Regions from separate parts of the Homo sapiens genome. Here region 1 is linked to region 2. The links come from fine-mapping of genetic effects on gene expression. A gene starts in region 2. The other region holds a variant in brackets. All regions are shown on one strand. Distances are between the middles of the regions. Region 1 has its middle 38 kb from the start of ARL5A. Region 2 holds the start of NEB (nebulin).

Region 1 (5,392 bases), 56 kb before region 2:
GAGTATACATTTCTTAGTTTGTTTTGAATACAGAATTCCAAAAACTTCTTTATTTTTCCATGATATACTGTAAACATCATTTACATATAAAACATTTTAATGGATATATTGTGTTTGCTGTTTGGACATGACATAATTTATTTAACCAGTCTAATGTTGATGTACATTGTTGTTCCTTATTTCTTACCATTGCAGTAATTTTACTGTAGTTAACATTTGGATTTATTTTTCATAGAATGAATTCTCACAAGTCCAATCGCTGTGTCAAAGCATATGGCCTTTTAAAAGGCTTTGGTAGCCTGTTGCCTAATTGTCTTCCGAAAAGATTCCCCACATCCTGGTCAATTCTTCAGCATATACACGGCCATCTCTATATTAAGACACTTTATATTAAGATTTGTAAACCTGTTGACTACTGTCACAGGCCACCACCACTCTGGGCATCTTCAGGTCATGCTACATGTTCACCAGTCCTTCCAGCAGTGGGCAGTGCAAAGCTTCCCTCCGCCCACAAGGTTTCTGTGATCTTTAGCCTTTATTGTGCAGTTTACTTGTTAACCGGCTTATAATGTATTCAGCCTATGCTAATCATTGACTCCTTTTGGGAAGGGTAGAAGGTAAAAGATGTATACAATCTCTCAGCTGACCTTTTTTTAATGTTGGGGAAGAATAATGAACAACTTTTATTATCTACCATAGACGGCCAGTCTTCTGCTTCTAGGATGCTCTCCCACCAATGTGTCCATCTATGCTGTCAGCCCTAAATGCCAGTCCTGTGTAGGAAGTCCTGTGTTCATTCAGAAAAGTCACCCAGTGTCCATCCATTTATGTCCATCATATTAAAAACAGTTGAGTTATATGATAAAACATGCTACCATTAAATATTTTAACAGATTTAAATAATATGAGGAAATTATTAATGGTTGTGACATGTTAAACAGGATAAACAATTTTTTTATAATATAAACTTTTACATCTATCATCTGAATTATGCGAGAACAAAAAACATAGAAAAAAGATAGGAAAGTACCTTGGGAAGCTGAGGCCGGAGGACTGCTTGAGCCCAGGAACTCAAGATCAGCCTGGGCAACATGGCGAAACCCTGTCTCTACAAAATGTTTTTTAAATCTAGCCAGACATGGTGACAGGTACCTTATAGTCCCAGCTGCTCAGGAGGCTAAGGTGAGAGCATCACTTGAGCCCAGGAGTTCAAGGCTGCGGCGAGCTGTGTTTGCACTCCAGCCTAGGTGTCAGAGTGAGACTATGTCTTTAAAAAAAAAAAAAAGAAGAAAGAAATGTATTATAACATTAGGAGTTGTAGGCGGCAACATTACAACCAGTATTTTTCTGATTACGATTTTGTATGTTACAGATATTCTATATTGAGCGCATTATACCAATAATCAGAAAACATTGCTGAATCATTTTGTCTTTAAAGAATCATCTAATAGGGATGGGAAGGAATACAAAAGTTGTATTAAGTAAATGGGATGAAGCTCTCAGTTCAGAGATCAAGATGATTGGTAAGTGGAATACTATGCAGCCATAAAAAGGAACAAAATAATATCCTTTGCAATGTGGCTGGAGGTTGTTATCCTAAGCGAATTAACATAGAAACAGAAAACCAAATACCACATGTTCTGACTTATAAGTGGGAGCTAAACATTGGGTACTCATGAACATAAAGATGGCAGCAATATTGGGGACTATTAGAGGGGTAAGGGAAAGGGGGCCAAAGGTTGAAAAGCTTTATTGTACTATGCTCAGTGCCTCGGTGATGGGATCATTTATGCCCCATACCTCAGCTTCATGCAATACACTCAGGTAACAACCTGCACATAAATCCCCTGAAATTAAAATAAAAGTTGAAATTAAAAAACAACAACAACAACAACAACAAAAGGTGATTGGTAAAAATTCACTGATGCAATGCCATTTGCAACCTTCAGTGCAAGTCTGATTTTGACAGAGTTCTTACCAATTATTGCAGATGTAAAGAGATTACCTTTTTAGCTTATGCCTTGATATTATGTGTTTTGCTTTAGATGGTTTGGTGGTTGGTTGGTTTGTGGGATAGGTTCTTTTTGGCTGTGTAGTAATGACATCAAATGCCCGCAGAGAATTAGTTGTAAATGGTAATGGTCTTTTTAAATGGTTTAACTGCTGTACTCAAAATACTCTTCAACCTGATCTGGTGTCCTAAAAGTTTAGTACTTCTAATAAGATCTAACATGTGGTTGCATTTGTTATAAATGCCAAAGTTATATTTAAAAACACCCAAAGGGGCTGGGTGTGGTGGCTCACACCTGTAATGTCAGCACTTTGGGAGGCCCAGGCAGGAGGAGAACCTGAGCCCAAGAGTTTGAGACCAGCCTGGGCAACATAGTGAGACCCGCATCTCTACAAAAAACAAACAAAAAAAATAGGCATGGTGGCATGTGCCTGTTGTCTCAGCTACTTGGGAGGCTGAGGTGGGAAGATCACTTGATCTTGGGAGGTTGAGGCTACAGTGAGCCATGATTGCAACATGCAACACTGCATTCCAGCCCAGGGGACCATGAGACTATCTCAAACAAACAAACAAACAGACAAACAAAAACCCACTCCAAATGTAAAGTGAATAGTTCACATCAGGTGTACTGGAGGCTATATGAAGAGAGACAGTGATAGCAAGAGTCAACAGTCCTTATAGACTAAAGTGAGGTGGCAGTAGTAGTAGGCATTGGGGAACCACTGAAGGTTTGCTTGTTTTATTTTGTTTTAAGACAGGATCTTGCTGTGTTTCCCAGGCTGGAGTGCAGTAGCATGATCATGGCTCTTTGCATCCTTGACCTTCTGGGCTCAAGTGATCATCACACCTCAGCCTCCCAAGTAGCTGGGACTACAGGCACATACCACCACGCCTGGCTAATTTTTTTTTTTTTTTCTTAGAGATGTGGTCTTGCTATGTTGCCCAAGATGGTCTCAAACTCTTAGACTCAAATGATCCTCTCACCTGGGCCTCCGAAAGTGCTGGGATTACAGGCATGAGTCACTGCACCTGGCCTGGGAATAACAGTTTAAGGCCAGCCTCTTAAAATGAAAGTTATTGTGGCAACTTCTAAAAGATGGGTTGAAAAGAGAGGAAACTGGGGATAACATCATAAATAGATTATTATATTATCCCTGGTGAAAGAAAATGAAGGCCTGAAACAAGGCAGAGAAGGCAAAGATAAACTTGATATCTAATGGAATATGGGTAAGTAACCATATAAGTTATCAGCCAAAATGGGACATGCTTAAGAGTCAAAGAAGGCACTATTAATAATTACTCCAGCATATCAAAATACCACATTATACCCCATAAATACATACAATTTGTCAACTAAAAATAATTTTTTTTTTAATTCATGAAAAAGGGGGATAAGAAGAAGAAAAACATTCCTGCAGGACT[G/A]GTCTGGGCAGAAGAGGAGTTGTGGTAACTAGATATGAGGAGAAAGAGAGGAAGGAGGCACAGAGCAGTTGGAGCTTGCTGCCTGGAAGAATGACGGTATGATAAAGAGATGGGATGATGTGAAATAATTCACATTGTTAATTATGAAGTGTGTTTTGAATCACCTCAGTGTTACCCAGAAACGACACTCGGTTATCATGTTCAGATAGGGGACAATGTGTTTTTGCAGTGATAGCAGTGGAGGGGAAGGGTTGTCAGCTTAAGGGGCAGTTGGTCATTCTGTCATCAAATGAATTAGTAGCAAGACTTGACCAGCATTTGTGAATAATGAAGCTTTTCTTGCTGACAAACTGCTGATGTTTACATTGGGCCATTATAATAGGCAATTTAATGTCATTAATGACCTTTATATAAAAAATAACTCGTGAATGAATGAATGTAGTGAACATTAAGTACTGCTAATAGAAAAAAAAAGGGCAAGGCTTCTTTGCCAACTTGGCAGAATGATCATCAGTATTTCTGCCTGTTCTTTGCCTCAGGTACACACATATTTATTTATTTATTTATTTATTTATTTATTTATTTATTTATTTATTTTAGTTTTAGAGACAAGGTCTGACTGTGTTGCCCAGGCTGGACTTCAACTCCTCAGTACAAGTGATCCTCCTGCCTGAGCCTCCTGAATAGCTGGGACTACAGGCCTGCACCACCATACCCTGCTCTAGTTACACAAATCTTAAAATGATGCTGTTATGTTAATTCAATTAAGAAAGTAAACTAGTTCTATGATCCAAGCACATAGTTGTGACTCAATTCATGTTGTTGTTTTTAATCCTGAAATGATATTGTAAAATAAGAGCTTTGCCTTAAAGTTTTTGTTACTCAGTTTTTACATTTGAGGTAAGAAGGCAAGTGGCAGGGAAGAATGATTAGCAATAAAGCTTTTTAAAAGTTCTTCAGAAACAGTAGACAATTGGTTGAGTCAAATTGACCTATAATGACTATTCCCAGGAATTTCCTAGTTCTTATTCCTTTGGAAGGAATTGTAACTACCTTATGCCATGTAAAGAATGCTGCTATTTTACGTTTATTACAAAGATGTGCCTACAGATAAGAATCAAACTGGAGAACTTTAAAAATGTTTTAACTTTACCTGATCTTTTTCTTAGAAAGCTAACTGTAAGTAGGATATGGTGCCAAGAAAAATCATCAGCCTGATACTGTGAAAAAAAGACACCCTATTAATATGCCCACAACATTATCAGCAAGCTAAGTAACATCCCTGGACCTTAGTTTCATTATATTTTTAACTAAGTATGTATCAGAGCCCTTAACACAAGCCCAATATATTTTGGAACCTCAATAAATAGTGGTTTTGCTGATTGTCTTTTTAACAATTTCTAAAATATTGAATACTGGTTATTATAATTAAATGTATTCTAAACATCTATTCTTTCTGTCTCATGCCTTGATCTAGCCTGTTCCTTCCACCTAGAATGCCTTTTCCTTCCTTTTCTCACATAGCAATCTTTGACATATCCTTGAAGACTGAGCTCTCCCATCAGCCTGGGAGGCCTGGCCTGATCTGGAAGACGGTTCAGCACGTCTTTCTCTGTTGCCATAGTGCGGGATTTTTGTCTATTTTCAGCAGGTCGTTCCAGACTGCAAGCCTCTGGAGGGCAGTGACTCGATCCCATTCAGCTCCATATCCCCACTACCAGCATGGCATGCATTGGGGGTGTCCATACATATACAGAACAGAAACTTTCAGGGTTTGGCCAATTTTACTTTTCCTTAGCATGTATTATCATAAAGTGATGTAAGTACTATATGCCTGGATTTGTCTTATTACTACATCTATTTGTTAGTAAAAGGAGGTTACATGTTGCCTTAGTGGTTTCTTTGCACTTAAATATTTTTTAAATTATTTGGTTCTTGGCTGGGAACTTAGTCCAATAT
Region 2 (5,392 bases):
TTCTTTCATCTCTAGAGGGCATCATTCCAGATTAGAATCTGCAGAATTTAGTAAGGAGGTGGCAGTGTTTTTCTCTAGTGTGACTAGGAGGTAAATATAAGCTGCTTGCTGGTTCACTCACCCCTGTGTAACCATGGTAGGAATATAACCAGCTCTCCTGTGAGTCTCTTACTTCTGATGGCTTTGCAAATTATTAGGGCAACCTGCAGCAGGCCAGTTTAGCAGGGGCTTTGGGGCTTTCTTTTAGGAGGAATTTATCCCAAGAGATCTAAGCCAGGGTAATTTCATGTGAACTCACTCTTGCCCCACCCCCCACCCTAACTTTTTAGATGCACACTTCATTATGAATGGAGTTTGAGGTTCTGCTCATCTGTAGCACTTCTATTTACTATCATAGTGGTTTCAAAAGTAATGTATAAAGAGTGTCTTAGTCCATTTGGTCTGCTATAACAGAAATAATATAAGCTGGATGGCTTATAAACAGAAATTTACTTCTCATAGTTCTAGAGGCTGGATGTCTAAGATCAGGGTGCTGGCATGGTTGGGTTCTAGTGAGGACTTTCTTTCAGGTTGTGGCTGGCCATCATCCCCCTGTAACTTCACATGGCAGAGAGAGTGCCAGGCAGCTCTCTGGGGCCTCTTTCATAAGTGTACTAATCCCATTCGTGAGGGCTCCACCCTTATGACCCAATCACTTTCCACACATCGGGGGGTAGGACTTCAACATATAAATTTTGGGGGGACACATTCAGCTCAGATAGTAATGATTTTTCAGTCTAATAATCCCTAAGGATATTGAGATGTGTATACATAGGAACCCTCATTCTCTGTTAGTGAAACATAAAATAGTGTAAGGATTTTGACTGGCAACTTGACAATATCTATCAATTTTCAAAATGTGCATATATCTTCTGCCTCAGTATTTCTATTTCTAGAAATTTACCTTACAGATACATTTCATATAAGTATACAAAGGTAATGTACAGGGATGCTTACTGTGTGTTTTGTTTCGCATTGTTTTGCTTTATTTTGTAATAGCAAAAACCTCGAAACAACCTAGATGTCCATTAATAATGATTAAACTATTATACTCTATCCAATCAATAGAATTATTTGTGGAAATTAGAGTAGGATATGTTTATGTGATGTTTCATAAAAATGTCTATTGCATATTAAGTATATCGATTTATGTCAATATCTATATTGAAAATATCTGAAACTTAAAAATGACTAAGAAGGTCAATGCTCATTTTTTACTTTATATAATTTTGTACTCTATGTTTTTAAAGTATGGGCCTGTATTATTTTTTAATTCAACAACACATTTTAAAGCATGTAATGACTAGTAAGTCACAATTCTAGTTTGCAGCTACCAAGTGAGTGATCTCATATTACATAAATATCCTTTGGTCATAAGACCTGTGAGAACATACAAGATGAACAGGTATAATCAGTTAAGATGATAAAATTCTGTTAGATTTTATTTACTACCATGTGAATCATGGAGGGGGAAAAGGTACATGTATTTGAAATATGAGATTACTTTCTCAAACTCCTGGCCTCAGACAATCTGCCCGCCTCGGCCTCCCAAAGTGTTGGGATTACAGGCGTGAGCCACCACGCCCAGCGAGATTACTTTCTAATGTTTAACTTAAAAAAGAAAAAATATTACAATATGTTTAATCTCAAATCCATATCAAGATATAGGTGACTCACAGGGTTTTGCCTGAATACAGGAGCAACCCAGAGAAAGAGCAGTTCTCTGTCACATAAGAGCCTGTGATTTCTGTCGCTGTGTGTAAGGACAGACAGACAGACAGATAGAATTAGATTTTAAATTAGAAAAAATACTTCAGGAGCAAAGAAAGTGCAAGAAAGACATCAGGCAAGTTTTAAGAAAATGGTTAGATAATTTTTATGAAGGAAATGTCTTACGTTCGGATTTGCCAAATAGGGCATTATTTTCTCCTGATAAGTTACTGATTTCCATGTTATCTGCTCTTGCTGTTCAGAAATTGAGCCTGTTTGTGTCCGCATTCACACGTTGCTTCTGGGAGCCAGGAGTCATCTGAGTTAATAGAAAAATCACTAACTCGGTTACATATGAGAGAGGTTCTGTATTCCTAGCAGCTTGCCTTATCTAAGGAGGGAGAAGGTGCTAAATAGGATTTTGGTATACCCTCTTGGTTTAGTAACAGAAAAATGATGGGGTCTAATCTTTCTAATTACACCCTGTGGATATCTTATTTAGTGCCATTGTCAAATATTTTCACCTTTAACTTCACTCATCACATTTTTAAAAATTGCTTTTGTCAACTTGATGTTTACTGGGTCTTATTCCTCAGTTTCTTTCACACTAGCACCAGTAACTTACCTGTAGCTCACCTGGTGAACCTTACCAGAGTGAGTACATTTACCACCATGACTGGACAAATGACATGAAGAAAGCAGTCACGGAAGGGTTAAAGCCTCTCAAAGTCATGCTTATTTTCTACTAAATTCTTTTGCATGAATATGACATTGAATGGGGCCTCAGTAAATGGGAAATTCAACCTAAAATTGAACTGCACAGGCTGGAAGTTAGGTAAAATTTGATTCCATTTGAATTGTTCTAAGCAAGCAATTTGTTACCCTTTATCCTTTAGTGGAATTGATGAACAGGTGGTTTTCAGAAGATCACTTGGTAAATTTAGCTTCTGAAATTTGAGCAACTCAAGATCTGATTGGTTGCTCTTGCCACATGATAATTCGGAGCCCAGGCATCACGCTGGCTTTTGCCTGGGGTTCTCAGGAGGGGAGAGTTGGGAGAGGCTTTGCTGCTGAGGAAATTTATTTGGTAGATTGAAGGTAAGGCCAGTTTATGACTTTTTCTGTAATACTCTTTCAGGAGATGCTCCACAACTTCCCTCGAAGTATTTTTCAAAGGTTTGGGCCATAACTGAGGAAATTAGTGGTAGAAATATGGCTAGGAGAGTTTAACCCCATTGCCCTACTAAGGCCCTACTAATATCTGCTATGTACCGTGTGTGATTAGAGTCAAGTCCTTTGCTAACCAATTTATTGCTTGACTGAATTGGCTCTCTTGTCTAACATTTTTTTGCCTTTGATATTTTTCTCTAAATATATTAGTGTGAAAAAGAAGATACGCTGCTCTACGTTCCTATATTTATCCTGTTCTACTGGGCTTCATTTGCCTGAGGAGTGGCAGTTTCGCTAGCTTAACAAAACCAGCCACTGCAGGGTATTGGTTTACATGGCAAACATCTTTGGATGAAGGGACAGCTGTTCCAACTCATCATCCACTTCATATCAAGAGTCTTACTCTCTGGCGTCAAACTGTAGAGGCCTTGAGAGATCCTTTCGCTGTTTTCTGCATTAGAAGCTTAGGCTAAGGACTGACAATCCTATATGTACCTCAATCAATGCTTTACAACTTTGTTATTTTTCAGGTTTGAACGAGAGCTACAGAAACGAAAGAAAAAGTCTGTATAAGCCAATGGTGTTCGGGAAGAAAATAACCCCATTGCCTTGAGGTTTCTTTTTTTCTTTTAAAATTTATTGACAGATGTATTTTTATGGGTTCCAATTTGAAGCCTAAGATATATTGCAAACAGTGGATCAGGGCAGTATGGAAAACTAAGTCAGCCCTCTTAGAATTTTGGTGCTGGGGGATAAATTTCAGCTTCTTCTGAAACCCAAGCTGACCTTTCACTAAAATTTTTGCTGGAAAATGTCTTTTCTCTAAGTGTTTGGAAGTTTAAATTCTCTGTTCCCTGAGTCCAAACTCTCTCACTTCCTTACCTCAATTTCGTTTTACAATTTTAACTAAACTGATTATGTAGAAGTAGCAATTCCCAACACTGAAGGAATAAAGAGAAAGAAATTTGAAGCTTCTGCTGTTTATACTTGTATTTTAAATGTCTTCTCTCCTTTAGCCTGCAACAATATATGAATTTGTACAATAGTTTAGCTTCAAATTCTATTTTTATAATGTCATAAGATAATTTCTGTGCTGGGAATAGACTCTAATATGTTTTCATTTGTATGGAATATGAAAAGTTTGTAGGTGCCACTACTACTCTGGAAAAATGGCAGATGACGAAGACTATGAGGAGGTGGTGGAGGTAAGATTTAAAAAAAAAACACTGACAGCAAACTATTTTATGTAGTGACAATCAAAGCTGTGTAGGTGAATTAATCATTCGAAAAATACATTGTCTATTATAACTTCACAAAGAGTCATCATTTAAAGCATAAGAAAGGAATATTTTATGTTCAGTTTCACTATAATTATGTGGGATTTAGAATTGACAGGAAATATCACTGTTTCCCACTTTTGCTTTTCTTTAAGCTCTCAAAAAACCAAGTTGGAGTAAAGGCAGGTTTTAATTCGTCTTCTAAAACTGCTTTCTTCCCCACTTCCCAACCCCGATGTTCAAAGGGACAGAGACGAAGAGAAAGTTCTGAAAATGGAACTCTGTCTCTTAGTATCTGTATAGCAATAGAAGAAAAGATCTACTCCTTATTCTTTGCTTCAACTAGCTAATCATCTATAGGGTAACATGGGTTAGATATTCAGAATAATCATATGTATGAAATTATATGCAGATGTGAGACTTTATACATAATACATACACATGTGCACAGACACACACATACAAGCAAATATAAATAAAGGCATGAAGGTCACAGCGATTGTTGGAGCCACACCTTCCTACCAACTTCATTATATTTACCCAAGTCAACAAGACTAGCTTTTGCTTTTGAATTTTGAATAAGAACAAAGACTATAGTGGGTATCTTGAAAATTTTCCTTCCAATTATTAGTGGACATCTAACACATTTTACAAAGCTGTTAATCATTTATTTTATATTTATTTTACATCCTTTTGTTTTTATCATCTTACGGTTTTTCCTCACCGGCTCTTGCCTTTAGCTTCACATTCTAGAAATAAAATCTAAAGGCTTGGAACTATAATGCACATAAATACAGTGCCATGAATCTGAATGTGCTTAATAATTACCAATTAATGATGATGATCTAAACACATGAAAATCTCCAAATGCCTAAGGCACTTGGAGGCAGTTTTGAAAATCTGTGCTTTTTAATAAGACTGAAATTAACTGTAAGAGCTACCCAGAACCAAATTTTAGGTGGCAGTGCCAAAATTTCTCTTTGGAAAATTATTTTAGTGACCAGTCTATATTTAGATGAAGAAAATTTTATTTATTCTACAAATAAAATAGCTTTTATTACTGAAGGATATGAGGGAAAAAATAGAATGAATCTCGTACAATGTAACACTCAGCCTCTCTGGCTTAAATGCTGATACCACATCTTTCATGCTGATATTATCACTAGTGTGCATTTTACTTATGTACCTAAGGGTCA

The links. PIP is the estimated chance that this variant, and not a neighbour inherited with it, causes the effect.
Region 1: its variant is fine-mapped to the expression of NEB in blood mononuclear cells (TOPMed, PIP 0.98).

What each region holds. Positions count from the first base shown.
Region 1 is chr2:151,787,889-151,793,280 of GRCh38, reverse strand. No RefSeq gene overlaps it. Among named protein-coding and RNA genes, the nearest start is that of ARL5A, 38 kb to the left of the region's middle. The variant G/A (reference allele first, on the strand shown) is at 3,434.
Region 2 is chr2:151,731,853-151,737,244 of GRCh38, reverse strand. NEB (nebulin) reads left to right here and starts at 2,769. Exons shown (of 182, transcript NM_001164508.2): 1 at 2,769-2,847; 2 at 3,450-3,533; 3 at 4,060-4,124. The coding sequence starts at 4,089.